3 linked regions of the Homo sapiens genome follow. The protein of the gene in region 1 purifies or fractionates together with the protein of each later gene. This does not show direct contact. Each region holds a gene or a part of one and is shown in the gene's direction. Other genes may lie near its edges.

Region 1 (7,023 bases):
TCAGGGGTCTGGAATGCAGCCACTGTCTACATGTGTTGGCTCGGGGTGGTGGGGGCAAATGGACAGGAAGGAGGCACTGCCCTCAGCTCTCCTTGAGCTTTGGGGGCTGCTTCTGCCACCGCGCCCAACCCTCAGGCTGCCACAGCCTTTCAAATAAACAGTCCCTCTCTGTCTCCCTCCCTCTCTGCCTCCTGCCCGAGTTCTCCTCTCAGGCCCGTGTCAGTTCGCCCTCTCATACCCTCCGCGAGCAGCGCTCACTTCCCCTCTCCAGCTAGGCTCGCCTGCTCTGCCTTGCTCTCACACTCCCTCTCACTCTTAGTCACTCTCTGCCTCTTTTTCTCAAGTCCTTTTGTTTCTCGCACATGCCCGTGCTCTCCCTCTCAGGCTCATTTTCTCTCTTCCTTCCCCTCTTCCTCTCCTGGCTTTTGGTCTCTCTCCTCAGCCCTGTCAGAAGCTGGCAACCCCCCTCCCAAAAAAGAAAATCTCCCAGTGCCTATAAACCCTGCTTAATTGCTTCCTTCTTGGGAAAAAAAAAATCAAAATAAAAGAAGTGGTGGGGCTGGGGGTCCGCTTCCAGGTTCCAAGGTGCGTGCGGCCCGGCCCCAGCCCTGACTGAGAGGGGAAGCGGGAATGGCTGGCCCAAGACTCCCAAGCCTCTTTCCCAAATTGGTGCTGGGGCCTTCTGGGATGCTAGTCCCTGAGTGGCAGGAGCTTCTGCCTCCTTGGCCCCTCCTGTCAGATTTGCCCCATGAGCGCAAGGTGGGGGGATGGGTTTGGTCCTGCTAGAGTTTTTTTTAGGAACCTCTGTGTGTGCGTGTGTGTGTGTGTGTGTGTGTGTGTGTGTCTGAGTTGGGGGGCTGTTATCTAAATGGTCCTAGGCGACCCCTCCCGCAGCCTCTTCCCCTGGGAACTTGGGGCAGCCGGCAGGCCTCACACTTGAGTCCTCAGCCAAGTCCAGCTGCTGCAGTTCAGTCTCTCAGTCCCGTCCTGACCCCTTCCTGCCCCCCACTCAGGTTCCCCCACCTCCAGGGAGTCAGAATGTGCCTGAGATCACATTACAAACATTCCCTACAAGGGGGTGGGGGTGGGGGGGTTCAGCTTGGCATCCAGGACCCTTGACTCCAGCATGGGTGGGGGCAGCTGCAGACCCCAACCCATGCTTGCCTGCTCCAAGCCAAAGTGTTGGCCCCAGCCCCACACAGCTGTTCTAGCTCACAGTCCTGGGGAGGCCAGCTCAGGGGGCCCTTTTCCGGGGTGGTTAGGGACCTGACCTCTTCTACTTTGTGGCTGATTGGCCACAGGTGGGAGCCTGAGAGTGATGGGAATCCAGCAGCTCCTAAAGTCCCCTGTTCCCCTGCCTCCCCTCTCCCACATAGGGCAGCCAGGCAAGGGCAAGAAGGACCTGTGAGGCTGGGGTGGGGACTGAATCAAGGGTTCCCTTTCTTCCCTTGGGCTCTCTGTTGTCTCATCCGCTCAGGTGAATGGGGATGCGTGGGCCCTGGATACTATGGTGCATCACTGTTTTCTGGGGTTAGGGACTAAAGGAGATAGAGTGGGCCAGCCAGGAGGCTGCTAGTTGCCATGGGAACACCAGGTTTGGGGGAGAGTCCACTCTGTGACTATTAGAGGAGCTGAGATACGGGGGTGCTCACCAGCCACATTCTGGGTTCCTTACCCCGCAGACCATAGCAGCCCCTCTTGGGCGTGTTTCACGATCATTGTTTTGGGTCAGGGTGCTAGCAGCCAGGAATGTAAGCTCCTTCAGCTTTTTACTTCTAAATAATGCTGTGTTTGGCATGCTAACTAATAGGCAGGCGGCACCTTGCTACTTACAATGCATTCTCATATATGATCTCATCGAATGCTCCCAACAACCCTGGGAAGTAGGTATTGGTCCCATTTTCCAGATAAGAAGGCATATGCCCGGACAAGGGAAGTGACTTGTCTAAGGCCAGTCAATGACTTGCCTATGGGGGCAGAGCTGTGTTGTGTGCCATTCATTCCTGCTGCCTTGAAATGTAGGAGAGACAGGAATTCAAGGTGGGGTTTGGGAAGAGGCCCTGGCTCCCTGCCCCTGAGTTCCCCTCTTACCTCGCAGGTGTGCAAGCATCTGTCCCTGTGACTCAGGCCCTGTCTGTGTGGGGTGAGCAGTGCTCCAACTTCCTCATTTGACTTTTCTAGGCCTACCTTCCAGGGCTGACTGCTTGGGTGACCTGAACTAAAGGCAGCCAACTCACTGCCTGGCACACTCCCTGCGGAGCTCTGAGTGGCACCTTTGGTTCCTCTCTGAGCTAAGAATCTCTCTTCTCAGGGACCCCACAGAAAGCAGACATCGACATCGAGGAGGGGGGGTATTAAATTCATAATGGACACGAGCCTTAGCCAGGTGGGGCAGAGGGAAGGGCATAGTTCAGTGTAGATGGGGAGGGTGACTTCCTCCAGGACTCTCCTGGCTTCCCTGCCTCTGACAGAGCTGTGTGTGCCAGGACCCAGCTGCTGTTCCTGCCCACCCACGCCTGGGCGGGCACTGCTGGGACATGCCAGGCCTGCTCCTGCCAGCCTCGGGGGCTGGGTGGAGCTGGGGGAGTTAAAGAGGAGCCTTTAATTTGGGGGCTCCCCACCCTAGCTGGGATGAGAACAGACTTGAGCTCTGGCTTGGGGTCTGTCCTCCATTGGTCTTGCCACCCTGGGAGGTGCAGGTGCAGTGGTCGTGGGGTCACTGAATCGAGGTTGAGGCTAGAGGCTTCTACCAGACTTGGGCTTGCATGGCCTAGAACCAGGCTCCCCCTTTGGTCATTCTCTGACCACAAGTTGCTAGAGCCTGAGAGCAGGGTGACAGGGAAAGAAGTATAGACCTGGTGGGATGTGGGCAGCTTTCTGGGCAAGACCCTCCTAGCTGCAAGCTCTCCCTGCCCCCTGTAAATTGTATTCACATGGGTGGAGAAGGGCTTATCCGGAGAAAACAAGGAGGGGGCTGTTGGTTAGTTGGTTTCTGGCCAGTCCAGGGCCTTGGAGGCTACTGTCCCCAACCCCTTCAGGCTTTTCATATCCCAGGATTCTTTGTGGCAGTGATGGCATCGTGGTGCTTCTAAGCTAGGTAGAAAGGCTGAAGGTAGAACTTGGGTTAGGGTAGAGGGGGAAGAGCTGGAATAGCTTAGGCCGCCTCCCCCAAGTCCTTTTACTCCCTGGGGTGGCGCCCTGGGGTCCCAGGGCTATCTGAGGCTGGAGAGGGAAGGCCTCAGGGGTTACCATGGTGACCTGCTTCAGGCTTCCTGCTGAGCCATGTCAATCCCTTTATTTTTCAGAAAAGGGCTTTGTCTGGGGGTGGCCCCAGACAGAAAAGCTTGGCTTGGTCCTAGGGTGGGGGGAAGTAAGGTGGAGGATAAAGAGTTTCACTTCGGGATATCTCTTCCTCCTCTTCCCTTACTCCTACTCCTAATCTGGTAAGAGGGGAGAACTGTAGGGTCCCCCTTTAAAGTATGACTAGTGTTCTACCTAGCTTTGGCCTTCACTCTCACTGGCTATACACCCATCCCTTATGGCCCGTTACCACTCTCTTGAGCTTCTGACAGGTCAAGACGAGGTTTGCCCAGTGGTCGGGAAGATGCTAAGGTTACCAGTATGGGGGATCAGGGTCAGGGAAGGCGGGTCTCATCAGGCTCCGCTCCCTTCTGCACTTCAGGGGAAGGTGAGTTTCCCTCTGCCAGCTGCCATGCAAATGAACTAATGAATATTTATGAAGTCTGTTCACTGAGGTTGAAGAGACTCTGAGGGGTTTTGGGGGCAATAGTTCTCTCTTCTCCCCCCTCCTCCATCATGTAGACATCTGTTTCCTCAATGCCTCTGGCTTCAAGGTAGAACCCCAATTAGCTAGAAGCCCTGTTCCAATTCCAGGGCTCTGGAACCTGGGTGGCAATGGGAGACTGCACTTGGGGTAGACAGGACTCCCTGGTGAGTAAGCCAGAACCGAGTGGTTAGAAAGCTGAGCTGGCCTGTCTCCCTTTCCGTGCCCTCTATGTAGCTGCATATATATGTGTTGTTAAGATGCAACAGTACAAGGATTCAGGTAATGTTTTAGGGCCTCTTAGACCCATCGGGTTATTGTCCTGGGTAGGTTTAGACCCCTCTTTTCAATGGGAACATTCATCTGATCATTCATTCCCTCACATGAAGGGCCTGGACTCTAAGGTTCCTGCTGGCTCTAAGATGTGAGCAGTTGTCTAATCCTGCCATCTGGATGGAACCGTTGTGAGCACTGGAAAGGGAAAAAATGCCTGGAGAATTCTAGAGGCTTTGGGGAAACTTGTTGGCTTTGTATGGTGCATGGGACAGGGGTATTCCATCTGAAATGTTTATCCAGGCTTCCATCCCATGCCTACTTCCTTTCTGGGCCCTCTATAGTTAGGTACCAGTGGGGAGGCCATCTCATTCTGGCTTTTACCCTCCTGCACATCAAGATGGCAGCTCCCAATTTGGTGGAGCCTCACTCGACATGGAGGAAAGGCTGCTTTTCTTCGTCCACTTCATCCATGTGGTCAGTTTCCCTCTTCGCCTACTTGGGTATCATTTCCCTCCCTCAGATGAGGACACAGGTTTGGCATTGCAAAGGCATTTGCCCAGAGTTCCCAGTAGGCCGGTATTGCTTGTAGTACCTTTGGTGTAATGGGCCCTCAGGAAATGGAACCACTCTTTTCTCAGATGATTGTGGTAGCCTGTGAACTGGTGCATGACACTGTCAGCTTCATTCTCTTTAAGCACTGCCTGAAGCCTTCCATTGTCCTTCCTGCTCTGAGAGCCTGTCTCCAATGGGATGAAACCCACCCTGCTTGCTGTGACCCTTGAAGCCTTTCAGTCTGGCCCCAGGTGAACTTTTCACCTCTTCTTCTGTTTCTCTCTTCTCACTCCCAGCCAAGCTGGACCAATCACTGGCCTGGGCTTTGTGTTGTAGCCACTGCTGTCTACTGTCTCAGTGTGTTGACTTCTTATTCCTCACCTAAGACCCACTTTCATCCTGCCTTTCCTGTGGATACATCTCTGACCATCCTGGTCAGATGAGCTATCTCTTTCTTCTCCCTGCCTCCAGCCCTTGCTGCTTGAATCATCATCCTCACACATACCTACAGATAGCCTGGTGTTGTCTATCACTCGAGTATGGGTTATTTACTTTTCTGACCCAAACTGGACAGTAAAGTCCTTGACGATGGAGCCATATCTTCTCTTCCTGTTTCCCCTCCAAAATATGAGAGTGAGCTCATAGGTACTTAGTGTTAGTATCTGACCTCCTGCCTCTTGGGAGACTGCTTCTAAGAGGCAGTCAAACATGTTGAACGCCTATTGTGTGCTAGGTGTTCTCCATGTGCTGCCTTGTCTCCCCACCACAATATTGGAAGGTAGGGGCTCTTGCCACCCCCACTTTACAAGAGAAGAAACTGAAGCTCAGAACAGGCAGCTCATCCAAGGTCACAGAGTTAGTAAGGGCCTAGCTTTGGAATCTGATTCTAAAGTCTGTGTTCTTTCTCCTACATGGTTCTGCCTTGCTCTCAGCACCAGCCCATCCAGTCTCAGAAATGGCCAATGGAGCACCATTTTCTTTCTGTGTGCTTAGGCAAGGACAGAGTCCTATGGATAGGTGGTCCTGGGCTGCTGACCCTCCCTGCTGTCCCCCAGTGCCTGGCCTTCTGGATTAGAATATGAACCTGGCTCAAAAGGCATTTGTCCATCTCCTCTCAGGAGCTGGAGTAGGAGCAACATAGAGGTGACAGGTTAGGATACAGATGAGGCCCTATCTTCTATGATCTGTTGTCTCTGGTTGAGCCCCTTCTCTTCTCCTCTGTTCTTTTTAAGAATGAGATGAATCAAGTTTAGGAATTCAGGCTCTTGCATTTTGAGGGTGGGATGAATTGCCAGTAGGACAATAGGCAGTGGGAGTGAGCAGAGCTGCACCTGGCCAGAGACTGTGGCCATCATCCCTTTGCTCCAGGCGATGCCTGTTCCTATCTTTCCATCATGACCAAGATTAGTAAGGATGGGGGAGAAGACATGGGTCCCAGACAGATTGAGCTCCCCCAGCCTTTGGCTGGGAGCTGCGGGGAGTGGTGACTAAGACATGTGTGGGCTTGCTGTGTGTGTGTGTATGTGTGTGTGTGTGTGTGTGTGTGTGTGTGTGTGTGTGTGTGCGCGCGCGCGCGCGCACGTGTGTATGGGTATAGGAGAGGTAGTAGCAGCGGTCATGAAGGAATCTTTGTTGGGGGTGGGGGTATATAAGACTGCCACCTCCAGGTAGCATGGGCCTGACACCTTGGTACCCAGCCCATTGGCCACGTCAGCCCCCTGCGGAAATGCCACATTAGGACAAAGGGCTCCCCCAGCCAGGCAGTGCTCCACCCTGCCGAGCAGTCAGAGCCTGGCAGCCTTGCCCATGGGCCACCCCTTCCACACTCTCCTGGTAGTGTGGTTCTCTCTCCCCACCCCCAGCCTGAGGATGGAGGAAGGGCAGAAGGCTTGCTCTTGCCATCTCCACCCAGTAGGCCCAGCCCGGCTCTTGTCCGCTTCCCTGGTTCTGGAATGGCCTGGGGCCACCCCCAACCCTGAGGCTGACCATCTTCTTCCTTCTGGGCAGGTTCCTGAGTGGGAAGGGCTTGGTGATCTATCCGAAAATTGGAGACAAGCTGGACATCATCTGCCCCCGAGCAGAAGCAGGGCGGCCCTATGAGTACTACAAGCTGTACCTGGTGCGGCCTGAGCAGGCAGCTGCCTGTAGCACAGTTCTCGACCCCAACGTGTTGGTCACCTGCAATAGGCCAGAGCAGGAAATACGCTTTACCATCAAGTTCCAGGAGTTCAGCCCCAACTACATGGGCCTGGAGTTCAAGAAGCACCATGATTACTACATTACCTGTGAGTCCCGCCCATCCCATCCTCTGGCTCTCTCCCTGGGCTTAACTCTTTCCTCTCCTGTAGTAGTGGGAGCTTCTAAGTGGTGCAATGCTATTGCATGTAGTTAAGACCCTGCTGGATCTGATC
Region 2 (7,973 bases), on another chromosome or scaffold:
GCAACTCAGCTGGCTGCCTGTGGCTCAGAGTCTCTCACGAGGTTGCAGTCAAGCTGGGGGCCAGGGCCGTGGTCATGTCAAGCCTCCACTGGAGCAGAAGGATCCATTTCCAAATTCATTCACAGGGTTGTTGTCAGGCCTTAGCTCAACCTTGTCCAATGTGTGGTCTGCAGGCTGCCTGTGGCCCCGGATGGCTTTGAATGCATCCCAGGACAGCTTTGAATCCAGCCCAACACAAATTCTTGAACTTTCTTAAAACATTATGAGATTTTTTGTGATTTGTTTTCCTCATCAGCTATTGTTTGTGTTACTGTTTTTTTGTTTGTTTGTTTTTTGAGATGGAGTTTTGCTCTTGTTGCCCAGGCTGGAGTGCAATGGCGCAATCTCAGCTCACTGCAACCTCCGCCTCCTGGGTTCAAGCCATTCTCCTGCCTCAGCCTCCCAAGTAGCTGGGATTACAGACACCCACCACTACACCCGGCTAATTTTTTGTATTTTTAGTAGAGACGGGGTTTCACCATGTTGGTCAGGCTGGTCTTGAAGTCCTGACCTCAGGTGCTCGGCCATGGCCTCCCAAAGTGCTGGGATTACAGGCGTGAGCCACCGCACCCAGCCCGTGTTACTGTATTTTATGTGTGGCCCAAGACAATTTTTCTATTTTTTTTTTTTTTTTTGAGACGGGGTCTCCCTCTGTCACCCAGGCTGGAGTGCAGTGGCTCCATCTCTGCTCACTGCAACCTCTGCTTCTCAGGTTCAAGCAATTCTCCTGCCTCAGCCTCCTGAGTAGCTGGGATTACAGGCATGCGCCACCATGCCTAGCTAATTGTTTTTGTTTTTAGTAGAGACGGGGTTTCAGCATGTTGGTCAGGCTGGTCTCAAACTCCTGACCTCGTGATCCACCTGCCTCTGCCTCCCAAAGTGCTGGGATTACAGGCGTAAGCCACCACGCCCGGCCCCTAAGACAGTTTTTCTTCTTCCAGCGTGGCCCAGGGAAGCTAAAAGATTGGACACCCCTGCCTTAGAAGAATCACTTGCAAACTCACCCACAGGGGCTTTTCCTTAGGGCACAGAAGCCACACACAGAAGCCAGCTTATCCAGGGTGACTGATCCAAGAGATAGCAAGAGAGTGTCCAAGACAGAAGTCACCATCTCTTGATAACCTAATCTCAGAAGCAACATGCTCATCACTTCTGCCATATTTTGTGCATTAGAAATGAGTCCATAAGTCCAGCCTACACTTGAAGGGAGGAAATTACACAAGGGTATGAATACCAAGAGGTGGGTTAATTGGGACAATTTCAGAGGCTACCTGCCACAGGTAAGGTATTATTATCCTTCATTTCATACCTAGACACCCAGCTAGTTAAGCAACTGGTCCAGGTCACCCAGCAGAGAGTGATCTGAGTCCAAAGTGGTTTTCTATTTCCCCAGGCTGGCGGGGGGTGAGATGGAGGAAGGCAGGGAGAAGTTACTGGTAGGAAAAAAAAATAATGAGGATGGAGTCTCTGTTATTTATCTACTGCTGTGTAACTAATTACCCACAACTTAATGGCTTAAAGCAAACATTTATTATCTTATAGTTTCTATGGATCAGGAATTCGGGAGCAGCTGAGCTGGGTGTTTCTCAGGGTCTCTCAAGAACCTGTGGTTAAGCTGTGGGCTGGGGATGCAGCTTTGAAGCCCTGACCGGGGCTGAGCCGCTACTTCCAAGAGAGCCCACTCACATGGCTGTTGGTGGGAGGCCTCATTCCTCACCGACCAGGCCCCTTTATAATCGTGCTTGAGCCTCTTTAGGACAGGCAGTTGGCTTCCCTCAGAACGAGTGATTCAAGAGTGGCTAAGCAGAGCCTCAGTCTTTTGTGACGTAGCCACAGGAGTCATAACTGTCGTTTCTGCAATATCCTGTTGATTACACAGGATAGGTCAGCCCTATTCATTGTGGGAGGTGATTCTAGAAGGGCATGGGAATACCAGGAGATCAGGGTCACTGGAGGCTGGCTACCTACCACAGGCTTCCACAAGATTGATAATCCGAAAACTTAACTTGTATTGTTGTTCCCTGCTCAAAGAGACCCAGAGCCTTCCCACGTACTGCAGACACAATCTGATTTTCTTAGCTCCATCTCCCACTGGCTCTTGAGTGGATGGACCATCTGGGACTGACAGCCTGGTCTGCTCACAGACCTCACCAGTCCCACAGCGGAGGCCCATGTTGATACCTCCCCTCCCATCCGCTGTTCTGTTGGTAAGGCCTGCCTCCGTGGGAAGGCCTGCCTCCCTGGGAAGCCTCTATTCAAACTTCAACGCATAGTTAGTGCATCCCCAGCATGTGCAGGGTCTGGCTGGATGCTAGGATATGATGGTGATACCACCTTGTCTCAGGGAACTTTCCTTTTTTTTTTTAAATTATACTTTAGGTTCTGGGATACATGTGCAGAACGTGCAGTTTTGTCACACAGGCATACACGTGCCATTTGTGTATGGCATCATTGTTTGTGTACCCATCAACCCGTCATCTACATTAGGTATTTCTCCTAATGCTATCCCTCCCCTAGCCCCCTACCCCCCGACAGGCCCCTCTCAGGGAACTTTCACTCAGATGGGGTAGTAGTTACTAGCGAATTAATAATAACCTAATCACACGTCATGCCCAGTTCTCCCAAGGAAACCTACAAGGTACCATGCGATTATGTAATAGGGGACTGGCCTAGTCCATGAGCATTGGGGCAGTCAAGTAGCTAGCCAGGCTGCATAGGTGTATCAGCATTGGGTTTAGGTGTAAGTGTCTGAAAATACAGAATAACAATAGCTTAAATAAGATAGATGTTTGTTTCTCTTGGGCAGGTGTTTGAGGACAGGTATTTTGCCACTTAGAGACAGGAACTCAGGTTTTTTTTTTTTTTTTTTGAGACAGAGTCTCACTCTGTCGCACAGGCTGGAGGGCAGTGGTGTGATCTGGGCTCACTGCAACCTCTGCCTCCCAGGTTCAGGCGATTCTCCTGCCTCAGCCTCCTGAGTAGCTGGGATTACAGGCGTGTGGCACCACGCCCGGCTAATTTTTGTATTTTTAGTAGAGACAGGGTTTCACCACATGTTGGTCAGGCTGGTCTCGAACTCCTGACCTCAGGTGATCCGCCCACCTCGGCCTCCCAAAGTGCTGCAATTACAGGTGTGAGCCACTGTGCCCGGCAGGAACTTAGGCTCTTTTTGTCTTGTTGCTCTGCTCTGTGGTGGCCTCCACCTTATGGTCCAGGATGGTGACGCCTACATTCCTGGCAGCCAGATGGAGAAAGGGACACAGAGGGTAAAGCAGACATACCAACTATCCCAGATGCCCCACAAGACACTTCCCTTTACTTCTCAATGCCACATCTAGCTACAAAGGAAGCTGGGGAAATGCAACTTTCACTGTGAGCACCCACATGCCCAGCCAAAAGTTGGGAGCTCTATCCCCACTCGAAAAGAGCAATGATAGTCAACCCTGTCTTGCATTTACTCTGTGCCAGGCATTTGCTGACCTTGGATATCATCCCAAATGCACACTTGATTCAGTAGGTCTGGCCTGGGGACAAGAGTCTGTCCTGTGATGGCCATGTGGCTGGTCTGTGGACCACAGTTTGAGGAGGGAGGATTCGAGGTCAAAGATCCATCATTGCATGTTTCCTCCCACACAGGGCCAACGAATGGCTGTTTGGAAGCAGTGGCTGCTCAAGATCCCTTAACTCTCCCTGCTGTCCCTAGGTTTCCAGTTCAGGCTGAGATTTCCTTTTCTCCCCCAACAGTGTCAGACCACTGACACTGAATGAATGAATGAATGAATGAGTGAATGAATGAAAAGGGAACGCAGAGGTCAGGTCCCGGCATATGCTCTAGGGGAAGGCTTTGGTTCACCACGTCACCCTACCCCAGACCCCGTGCTAGTGTTGTCCCTTCTGAATCCTCCCGGAGGAACCAGCACTGCTGTTCCCCTCTATTTACACAGGGGGAAACTGTCCATTGACTCTGCTTTTGGAACCCGAGCCCTCACCATTCTCCCCTGGGTTTTTTGAAGCCCTGTCCCACCACAACCTTGGAGAAAGGGCCAGTGACAGAACCTCGGGGAAGTTCAGAGTGAGTTTCCCCTACTCAGGTCTTGTGTGACCTCAACTACCATCTCCTCTAATCCAGCAGTCACGGAGGCAGCTGCTCTGTATTCCTGAGGAGGAAACTGAGGCTCTAAGAAGGAGACAATCGGCACAGTCCACGTTGGCCAAGTCACAGTGCAGGTCCCATCTGCCTCTGCCACAACCCTGCATGTTCTCGATGGACCTGGTTCAGAGCAGATGCTCTGTGAATGCCCACTGGAGTGAACGACAGGGGCAGATGGAAGCAGGGACAGCCACTGCCAGCCTCAATAGTTTCAGGTGCCTGGCACTGTGCTAAGCCAGTCTCCTGTTTCTCAGCTGATCCCCAGGAAAACCCCCTCAAGTAGGTGTCATCGTCCTCTTTGTGCAGATATGCAAAAGGGGCGGGGCGGGGGGGGGGCGCTCTGAGAAGCCCAGTGGCTTTCCCAGAGAGACACGGCAGGGGCAGAGGTGAGTCCACCTTAACAGCCTAGGATGGCCGACCTCTTCCCTTCCCCCACAGTATTAGGCCCTCACTCAGAGCTAGACGCTGTGCACGGCCAAAGTCTGTATCACCCCGCCCCCCGCCCCCAACTCAATCACAGTTCAGTGAAACTGTTTACAAATGCAAAAAACTGGGCTCGGAGAAGCAGAGAATTTGTCCGAGGGCATCCAAAGAGATGGAGAAGGAAATCTAAGTGGGAGGCTTGAAGGAATGAGTACTGGAGTCTTTGGGGGACTCCCTTCCCTTCCGACAGCCTCGACTCTCCGCCCCTTCCCTGCCTGCCCGCGGGCCCCTTTAACCGGGTGGCGGAAGGGGCGGCCGGGCGGGCGGCGCCCAATGGGCTGCGCGGAGCGTCACTTCCCGGCAGCGGGAGGCGAGTGGCGAGTGGCGAGTGGCGAGTGTCAGGGGGGCGGCCGGCGGGGGCGGGGCGGCCGGAGGAGGCGTTGGCAGCGGGCTCGGACCCACGCGGCGCCGCGGCCCGCCTGGCCTGCAGCGCTCCCACCCCCGGCGGCGGCACGATGCCCTTTGACTTCAGGAGGTGAGTGTGGCGACCCCGGCCAGTCGGGAGTTCCCTCAGCGGGCAGAGGGAGCGCCCCGGCACGCCGCGGACCCCTCCCGCCCTGCATGCAAAAGCGGCTCCCCGCCCTGTGCATGCCTCCGCAGGCCCCTAGGGACCCCAGGCGAGCCCCCCCCCTGCCGCACACGAAGCCAGCCAGAGCCGCGGAGGCCCCCTCGTGCAGCGGGAGACAAATCCACCCACCTTCCCTCCGCCGAGCCCCCTCCCCAGCCTGCCCGGATACCTTGCATTCCCCTCCCCCACACTAGGAAACATTTCCTCCCTCCTCCCAGATGGGAACAGCCCATAACACCCCAGCATCCCTCTCCTCCCTCTACTGAGCCTCCTTGGTGGACCCCACCTCAGCTGACAGGTGGGGCAGGGCACCTGGAATGAGTCCGGAGGGGCCTGGGGCCCCATGCAGCCTGCCGGCAGCTGGAGGGTTTTAAGTTTCTATAGCCTGAGGCTCCCCCAGGCCGGGCAGATCGGGAGGCCTGCCCCCGCCCCTCCCTCCCTCAGCCCCAGCCCTGTCCGCTGGGTATGGGGGCACCATGGGAAGGGGAGGAGGCGCCTTGGGCAGGACTCTGCAGAAGGGCCACCGGGGTCTGGCCTTGGCTTTCTGCAGTCACCACAATGGGTCCTTTGTGGGGTCCAGCTGCCTCATGGTCTAGGTTGCATGGGGCATTCTGGAAGCCTGCGGGGGAAGAGATCTCCACCAGAGGTTCCCTTGAGGTGTGGAGCCCCAGGGGATGTCCTGGCCTGAGGCAGCCACACTTGGTGTCTGGCTGGGAAAAGAGCAGGGCTTTAATGCAGGGAGGAGCTGGATTAGAATCCTGGCTCTGCCCTTTCTACTGAACAGCTCGGTATATTCTAGAAGTTAGGGGCAAAGGCTCTGGGTTCAGAACTCCCTGTCGCCGCTCGGCTGGCTGACCTCAGCAAGTCTCCGAGCGCCCTCAGTTTCACCACCTGCAAATTGGGGCTAAAAATAAGGTCTCCGCTTGTGACGACTGAGTGCGTGAAACACCCTTAGCAGAGTCTGGCATGATTTAGAGCTCAGAAATAGGGCATTAGTGGATGGGGGGTGTTCTCCAGGAGGGGTTTTCCACATCCACAAAATAGTGATTCAGATGCCTGTGCCACAGGAGGTATTTCTTCCCCTCTTCTTGCATGTGAAGGCAGTGTAAAGTGACAGTCTACCCAGAGAGAAAGGCCCTTAGCCTGCCATGACCCCCATAGCATGGGATATATTGGGGTTTAGGCCCAAAGAGGACACTGGTCTTGGACCTCTTGATTGGTTGACATGGTTTTCCAGCCTGTCCGGGTCCCTGATACCAGCTAGCAAATGTTTGCCGGCTTCTTGCCCCTGCCGGGCAGCCCTGAGGCTAGCAGACCTAGGCAGTTTTGAACAAGGACAGCCCCTCTGGTGGAATTCAAGGTCAGTCCTAATAGCATCAGTTAAGTCTGGGCCATAAGAGCTGTGGTCGGCACATCAATTTCTGGTTCCACAAAGCCTCCCCTTACCCAGGCCAACCATAGGGATTCGTGCCACCGCCGCCCCCTGCCCCTGTGTGATTCAGTAGGTTCCGGTGATTTTGAGCTTGCTGGGGAAATTGCTGTTTTTGATCTTTTAATCCTTTCTCCCTGCACCTCACCCTTCCGTCTTACCAAGGAGGAAATGAGGCTCCAGGGATGAGGGCCTTATCTTGGACTTTATGGGTGCTAAATGGGAAGGGTAGACTTAGGTCTCAGGTCACACATGGCTCCCAACCTTGTGCTCCTTGAATTGGTGGCTTGTGGGGGCAGGTAAGGGAAGTAAGGAAAATGGGTAAGGCCAGCTCTAGCCTTTGGCCTTGGAAGGGCCCTGTGTCAGGCATTGATATTTAAAGAGAGAAATGCTCAGCTCTGAGAAGCTGGCTAGTCTGGGGCTCCCTTGGCATACTTCAGGTCCCTGAGTGCCCAGGTGTCAGGGGGCCCAGCTTAACTAGGAAATACTCTCAGGGCTTGGGCTCACTGCGGAATGGTGAGAATGGATTCAGTGCTTCACGTTTGCACCTTGGAGGATGAGCCATGTGTGCCCAGCAAACCTGCACTCTTTAAGCTCTGTGAACTTCAAGGCTCCAGGACCTGGGTTCTACTGAGGGTTCGACCATCCCCATGCACCTTCCTCCGCTTCAGTGTGCATTCATCAAGCATTCATCAAGTGTCCAGTCCATGCTCAGCCCTCTGCCACAGGCCCCACCGTGAGGAGGTGGGTGGCATGTGGTCCGGCTCTCTTTGCATTCCAAGAGAAGGGAGGAGGGCTTATGGGGTCCCAGGAGTGGGGGTGTGCGTGAACTGGCACGCAAGGAGCATCTACCACTGTATACACACTTTGGGGTGCAGACATCGATTCCCTTGTCACCTGAGAGAGGGAGTTTTAATCTTCATTTTAAATCAAAGGAGAGGGGAGCTCCACTGAGTAGAAGCCCTTTGCTCTGGCCATGCAGTGCATGAGCTGGTGGATCTGGGATTTGAACTTGGGGCTGTTAGCTCCAAAGCCTTAGATCTGGGAGAAAAGGGAGAGATTGGAGGGGCCCACCATCCTGTCAGCTCTTTTAAGAATTGTGGGGAGTGGAGAGGGGTATACCGTGATTAGACCTCCTCCCCCAGTTCAAGGCCAGGGAGAAAACCAGCCGTCCTGCTCGTGTTCCCCTTCTTAAAATCAGAAGCAGGAAAAATAGTGCACTCTTGCCCTTCCCTACGGATACTTCTGATTTTCTTACTGCCTGTAGAGCCTGGTGCAACTGAGTTCTGTGTTTTCCTGTCTGT
Region 3 (7,023 bases), on another chromosome or scaffold:
CCTCTGTGAGCCTCATTTTTTTCTATCTGTGAGGTGAGTTGTAATAATGTAGAGTTCCTGTGAGGTTTAAATGTGTTCACACACATAGCTCTTACAAAGGGCCTGGCTCATAGTAAATAAATGCTCACTGTTGATGGCTCCACAGAAGACAGCCCGATGTCCTCTACATGTAGCTGTTCAATAAATATACATATGTGTTCAATAAACCTTTATTATGCTTAGTAATTTGCTAGGTGCTAGGGAAATAATCATGAAAAAGACATAGTTTACATGCTTAATGAGAGATCACATTAATACGTATTTTTGTAAGGCCAGTAACTCCTTATCTGTCTGGCAGTTCTCGCCATTCTCTGAAAGCAATCTTCAGATTGTTTAAATTTTAGGCATTGAGACTTAAGATGTAGATTGGTTAAGGATCAAGGCCTTAACCATTGGCCCTCAAAAGATTTATATGGCAGGCTGTGATGTAGGGGAAAGAGCACTGAATTAGGAGTCCGGGAATATGATTCTGTGATTCTGATTCTTGTTCTAATACTCACATGTGGTGTGGCCTGGGGCAAATTCATTTTCTTCTGTGGGCCTCATTATTTTTCTGTTGGAAATAAATAAGCTTTTGGAGAAGCCAAGTTCAAAGGTACCTATTGAGATCTGCAGATCTCAACAAGTGGGAAGTTCCAGACTGAAATGTGGTCGTGGATGACATTAATTATTTTGGGAAAGGATAATAAATTACCTTGAGTTGGCACAATAGTTCATGATGATTTCACTTAATATATTTATTACAAGAGAGGTCACTTTGGGTATGCTCTATGCCTACTAAAATATCTCCTGGCCAGGCGCGGTGGCTCACGCCTGTAATCCCAGCACTTTGGGAGGCCAAGGTGGGTAGATCATGAAGTCAGGAGTTCAAGACCAACCTGGCCAAGATGGTGAAACTCCGTCTGTATTAAAACTACAAAAATTAGTCAGGCGCAGTGGCAGGTGCCTGTAATCCCAGCTACTCGGGAGGCTGAGGCAGGAGAATAGCTTGAACCAGTGTGGCAGAGGTTGCAGTGAGCTGAGATCATGCCACTGCACTCCAGCTTGGGCGACAGAGTGAGACTCCATCTCAAAAAAAAAAAAAAAAAATCTCCTTTGGGTATATTAAATTTATGGTATCCGTTTTTTCTTTTATGTGGTCTATCACTCTCCATTTTTCTTTTTTAATCTCTGATAAATTAATCCTTCATTTTTTTACTCAATTTGTCTCTTCAAAGATATTGCAAAGAATTTAACATATTGTTTGTATTATTAGTCAACTGTTATGATTCTTTCCAGCCTCATCTCTCAGTGTTCTCTTCTGTAAACCTCACTACTCCAACCTAATTTTCTGTCACACTCCTCATCCTCTATATTCTTCCTTACTGGCCTTTATTCTGTTTCTCAGGTGTACCAAGCTGATTTCCCTGTGCTTACAACTCTCTTTGCCTAACTATTTGTATGGCCAATTCCTTCAGATTTCAGCTGAAACATAACTTTTCAGAGACCCTTCCTGACCACCCAAACTCAAGCCACCTTCTACCCATACCCACCGTTACTCCATTTTATTTTCTTTATGTATGTTTTTGTTTGTTTGCTTGCTAATTGCCTTATTAGGAGAGAGAAGAGCAGACTCCTAGTTTGTATTATTCACCATTGAATCCCCAGCACTGGCACAGTGTTAGTATATATTTGCAATAAATGAATGAGTAAAATGCCAGTATCCTATATTTTGGTCTTGCTAGATATCTCACTGTTTGCCTACACACTTTGCATTTTTCTGTTTCCAAGCCTTTATATAGTTCATGCTGTTTGGTGTTTTGAATTTGAGAGGTTAATGCTTAAGTAATGGGAAGGTATAGATCAGAGCTAGATTGTTCCTGAATGTTTTTGTGGGAGGATATAGGGAAAGAACCCTACAGTGAAATTCTGGGAACACAGGTCTGCTTTAGCTCATTCGGGTAGCCTTGGGTGTAGCCCCACTTGCTGATCCTTCAAGGCCTAACTCCAGTACTGTATGTGTAATAAAACCTGTTTTCTCAGTTAGAATGACTCTCAAAGTCTTCTCTGGATTCCTATTACCTCATGACAGCTTTGAACACATTCTGTGTATGTAAAGTTAATAAACTAGGTGGTAATAAACAGTTTCTGAGAAACCAGGACTCTTTCACTTGCAAATGACAGAAACTCAAGTTAAGAAACTTAAAAAATAACAGAAACTAATTTAAAAGAGGGGAATTCAGTAGCTCAAGAAAATAGAAAATCAAGGAGCAGAACTGGCTTCAGGCATGGCTCTATTCAGGAACCTATCTCTATCCCTATCTGTGTCTTTCGGCTTGCTTCCTTTTTGTTTTGGCTTCATTCTTAGGGAAGCTTTTCCATATGGTGGTAAAATGACCATTGGCAGCTTCAGGGTGGGTGACTTTTTTCCATTTCGGTAACTCTTACTGAAAGAACACTTCTTTTTGCTGATAATTTTACCAGATGTCCTGAGACTGATGTCCATTGATCTGGCTTGGGTTACTTTTTAATCTATGCACCACTTACTCTGTGGACAGGGGTATTAGTATTCTCAGTAGCTAAATCTGAATGGTTTGCCAACTTTTGGAGCCAAAAGATGGAAGCAGCTGCACCCAGGTCACATGAACTAAGGAGAATCTAGAACCTGCCACCAAAAGAAAGGAGATATGGGTGCTGGTCATATCCATATCCAAAACAGTAGATGTTCTTCACAGTGTGCTGGACACTGGGTGTGCAAAGCCAAATAAAACACTCTCTAGCTATCCTATAATACATAGTTTAGTTAGGAAACAGATAATTCTACTATATTTGGTTAAGTTCTGAATTTAAGTTACCTGAAAGAGATGATGTCTGGGTAGAGGATTGAAAGAACAAGTACAGTAGAGGTCATTCTTACCAGAAGATAAAGTGGAAAATGATAAGAGATGAGGCTGGAAAAGTAGGTAGGGTCTAGGTCATGGAGACCTGTTACATCATGTAAAGAGCATGATCTAGTTGATGAGGAGCCATTGAAGGAAAGAGGAATGGTCAGCCCTGGGCTTAAGACAGATCACTGGTAGCATTTTGGAAGATAGATTTAAGATAAACAGATCAGAAGCAGAGAGACCAGTCATGAAGTGGATCTGAACTCAAGTAGTGGTAATAGGGAGGAGGAAGACGGGAAGAGGATGATGAGGGGCTTGGATAAAATCAGACCATCTTGGTGATTGGTTGGAGAGGAAAAAAATCTAAGATGGCCCCTATATTTTGGCTCAGGTAACTGGTACCTGGTGGCACCTCTAAAACTTTGGGAAATAAAAGAGGTTGAAAAATTTGGGGTAAGAAGAGAAAGACAATGAGTTCAAAGTTTTTATTTGTTGTATGTGTGATGCCTGCAGAGTATTTTGTCTAGCAGACATTTGGAATAAGTTTTCAGGAGAGGTCAGGTCTAGAAATAAGGATCTAAGAGTCAACAGCAGGTTGAGGATAGTTGAAACCACTGGCATAGGATGGATGGAGAGGGAATAGGATGAGACGAGTAAAGAGTGAAGGCTAGACCTCCAAATAATATTGGCGTTTAAGAGACTGGCCAGTTAGGATCAATATATAAAAGATACTGAGGAGAAATGGTCATAAAGGTCAGAGGAGAACAGAAGAAAGTTGGGGTTACAAAAACCAAAGAAAACTAGATTCATTATCAGGAGAATGGATAAATTGTGATATATACAATCATGCATTGCTTAATGATGAGGATATGTTATGAGAACTGCATCATTAGGCAGTTTTGTCATTGGGCGAATATCAGAGAGTGTACTTACACAAACCTAGCTGATGTAGCCTGTTACACACCTAGGCTATATCGTTTAACCTATTGCTCCTGTACAAAACTGTACAGCATGTTACAGTACTGAATACTGTAGGCAGTTGCAACACAATGGTATAGAAAAGGTACAGTAAAAATATGGTATTACAGTCTTACAGGACCACCATTATATATGTGGTCTGCTGTTGACCCAAACATCATTATGTGGTGCATGACTGTATATAAAATGAAATACTACACAGCAGTTAATATGAATGAACTAATACATGCAGCAACATGGATAAATCTAACAGACATTATGTTGTGCTTAAGCCAGACACAAATTAGAATGAACTTATATTTCTATTTTTATGCATTTTAAGATTAGGAAAAATTATTTATAGTGAGCAGAAGAGGGTTTGTCTTTGGGCAGGAGGAGGGGGACATGGTTTGAATAGTATTGGCTAGGAAGGGACATGAAGGGACCTTCTAGGGATGAGGAAATATTCTATATCTTGATCACGGTTTCGTAGGCATATACACATAAAAACATTTCTTAAGCCATACTCTGAAGATTTGTGCACTTTATGTAAATTATACCTTGGTTTTTTAAAAAGCTGATTAGAGGCCGGGCGCAGTGGCTCATGCCTGTAATCCCAGCACTTTGGGAGGCTGAGGCAGGGGGATCACCTGAGGTCAGGAGTTCGAGACCAGCTTGGTCAACCTGGCGAAACCCCGTCTCTACTAAAAATACAAAAATTAGCTGGGCGTGGTGGTGGGCGCCTGTAATCCCAGCTACTCGGGAGGCTAAGGCAGGAGAATCGCTTGGACCCAGGAGGCAGAGGTTGCAGTGAGCCAAGATTGTGCCATTGCACTCCAGCCTGGGCAACAAGAGCGAAATTCCATCTCAAAAAAAAAAAAAAAATACTACCAATTAGAGAATTTTGAAAAGGAATGATGGACCACAGTGATAAGTATTGCTGAGACTAGTAGGATAAGGACTGAAAAGCTAGATGGTACGTTCAGGTAAGAACAGGAGCCCTTACTTCTAGGATGCTATTGTGTTCCTGGTAGGTGCACAGTAATTTTGGTAAACTGAATTGAATTGTTGATGGCCAATATTTTTCTTATTTAGGCAAGAAATACCGCCCACGAATGGATCAGGAAGTCTCTGACCAAGCCATTAGCAGAGAATGAAGAAGGAGAAAAACAGTCGGAAGCAGAAAATACTGAGCAAGTCAACAAAAATTCAATAGAGGTAGCCAAAGCAACTAAGCCTTTTTTGTTTGTTTTAGTAGATTTGAAATGTGTCACAATCAGGGACCCAGGCTCCTATTTTTACACTGCTGTCCGTAATTTCAACCTTGTGATCTAGGATTGTAGCATCTTAGATCCAGACTATAAGATTAAAGGAGGAGTGAAGAAAAAAAGAGAGAAAGGATGCGCGTGTGTTTTGTCATGAGGAAGGTTCCCAGAAACTGCTGCCTGACACTTGTTATCTAAATCATTTGGCCAAAACTTAGTTACTTCGTCACACCTGACTTCAGGGGAGCCCAGCTGTAAAATTATATCACTACTGTGGAAGAAGAAGACACTCTTTATTGGAAGGCAACTATTAGTCTCTGCTACAAATCCTGTAGTATGAGAGAAGTAAGGTGGTATCTTTCCACCAAATGTTTTGTTTTGCTATGCTTTGTTTTGTTTTTCCATCCAGGATATCCATGCGTTTGCAATCCGGAGCCTGGCTGAACTGACTGCCTGCTCAATTGAACTATTCCACAAAACAGCTGCATTGGTTCTGCATGGCAGGAAGCAGGAAGTGACAGCCATAGAAAGGAGCCAAACTCTTTCCCAGTAAGTGTAATGAGAATTCCTCTAAATGATGCAAATTGCAGGAGTTTTCTTGGCCTGTTTCCAAAGTTTTATAAACGTCTCTCTCAAGAAACCATTCACGTCACACCCATCCACATATTAGATGGTTTGTTCATTTTGGTTGTTTTTTTCTTTTCATTGAACCATGATAAATCAATATTATAAATATGCCCTTTTTATTAACCAACTCATGCTCTGAAGACTATTTCTTTACAGATAAGTTTTAATAGGAATGGAATTTGGTATAAGTGAAAACAGAGAAGAGTTCTAAGAACCTCAGTTCTTAATAATAGTTATTATTGAGTGCTAATTTTATACCATTCCAAGTGCCATGCTAAGGGATTTGCATGTATAATTTCTAATTTTTATACCTCCAAAAGTAAGTAATTAGTCCAGTTTTAATCATGAGGAAATGCAAACTGGAGGAGTTAAGTAATCTGTCTGTGCTGTATGGCCTGGGATTTAGCCCCAGGTCTGACTGAGTGTCCTGAACCCATTCTTTTTTTCTCATTTTATTGCTGATTTGTACAAAAATTTTTCAAAAATAGTATAGATAATCATAGGTAGGGAAGAAAAAGCCCAGTAGTTTCTAAGCAAATGTCCTGATTAAAATAATGAGAATTTTCATTGGAAACAAATGTATAAGAGTGCCCATTATTAGAACTGGGAGGGGCTGTCAGTCTTCTGCAGACTTCCTCTTTACTTGCACCATCACCATCCCACTACAGCACCCCATAATAGGGGGCTAATTTGTCTTCTTGAACTTCCTTAAGGATGAGAGACTCACAACCCTAAAAGGAGCCTGTTCTGCGGAAAAGAGGCTATTTCTGCTACTTGGAATGTTCTTTGAAATGGGGTTCACTCCCTCTCTGAATTCAAGTCTACTCAAATGCCACCTTTTTAGAAAAGCCTTCCTTCACCACAAAGTCTAAAATAGCAACTTCCACCATTCTCTGTCCTTTTACTCTGCTTTATTGTCTTAGCTTATATCACCAAGTAGGACTTACATGTATATGAATATATATGTGTGTATATGTATACATATGTGTGTATGTGTATATATGTATATGTATATAGTCTCCCCCTTAATTTAGCAAGTAAGTTGAAATCCATGAAAACTGGGACTTTTCTTGTTCACTGATATGTTCCCATTGCTTGAAAGACTTTAAATAAAATCTGGCACACACAAGACTTTAGGTAACTATTATTAAAGATGGACTAATCACTTACTTTTGGAGTTGTTGTAAAAATTAGAAATGATACATGTAAATCCCTTAGCATGGTGCCTGGCATAAAATTAGCACCCAGTAACTAATAACTAATAACTAATA

The links. The genes of interacting proteins can lie anywhere in the genome.
Region 2: the proteins of EFNB1 (region 1) and ERGIC1 purify together in Homo sapiens (affinity purification with mass spectrometry; 3 studies listed by BioGRID and IntAct, with this or other methods). This does not show direct contact.
Region 3: the proteins of EFNB1 (region 1) and FAM114A2 purify together in Homo sapiens (co-immunoprecipitation; 2 studies listed by BioGRID and IntAct, with this or other methods). This does not show direct contact.

What each region holds. Positions count from the first base shown.
Region 1 is NC_000023.11:68,831,998-68,839,020, forward strand, and holds part of EFNB1 (ephrin-B1 precursor), read left to right. Parts: intron 1-6,619; coding exon 6,620-6,897; intron 6,898-7,023. UniProt on the Homo sapiens protein: Cell surface transmembrane ligand for Eph receptors, a family of receptor tyrosine kinases which are crucial for migration, repulsion and adhesion during neuronal, vascular and epithelial development.
Region 2 is NC_000005.10:172,829,287-172,837,259, forward strand, and holds the start of ERGIC1 (endoplasmic reticulum-Golgi intermediate compartment protein 1), read left to right. Parts: upstream 1-4,964; 5' UTR 4,965-5,127; coding exon 5,128-5,147; intron 5,148-7,973. UniProt on the Homo sapiens protein: Possible role in transport between endoplasmic reticulum and Golgi.
Region 3 is NC_000005.10:154,000,902-154,007,924, reverse strand, and holds part of FAM114A2 (protein FAM114A2), read left to right. Parts: intron 1-4,955; coding exon 4,956-5,078; intron 5,079-5,534; coding exon 5,535-5,674; intron 5,675-7,023.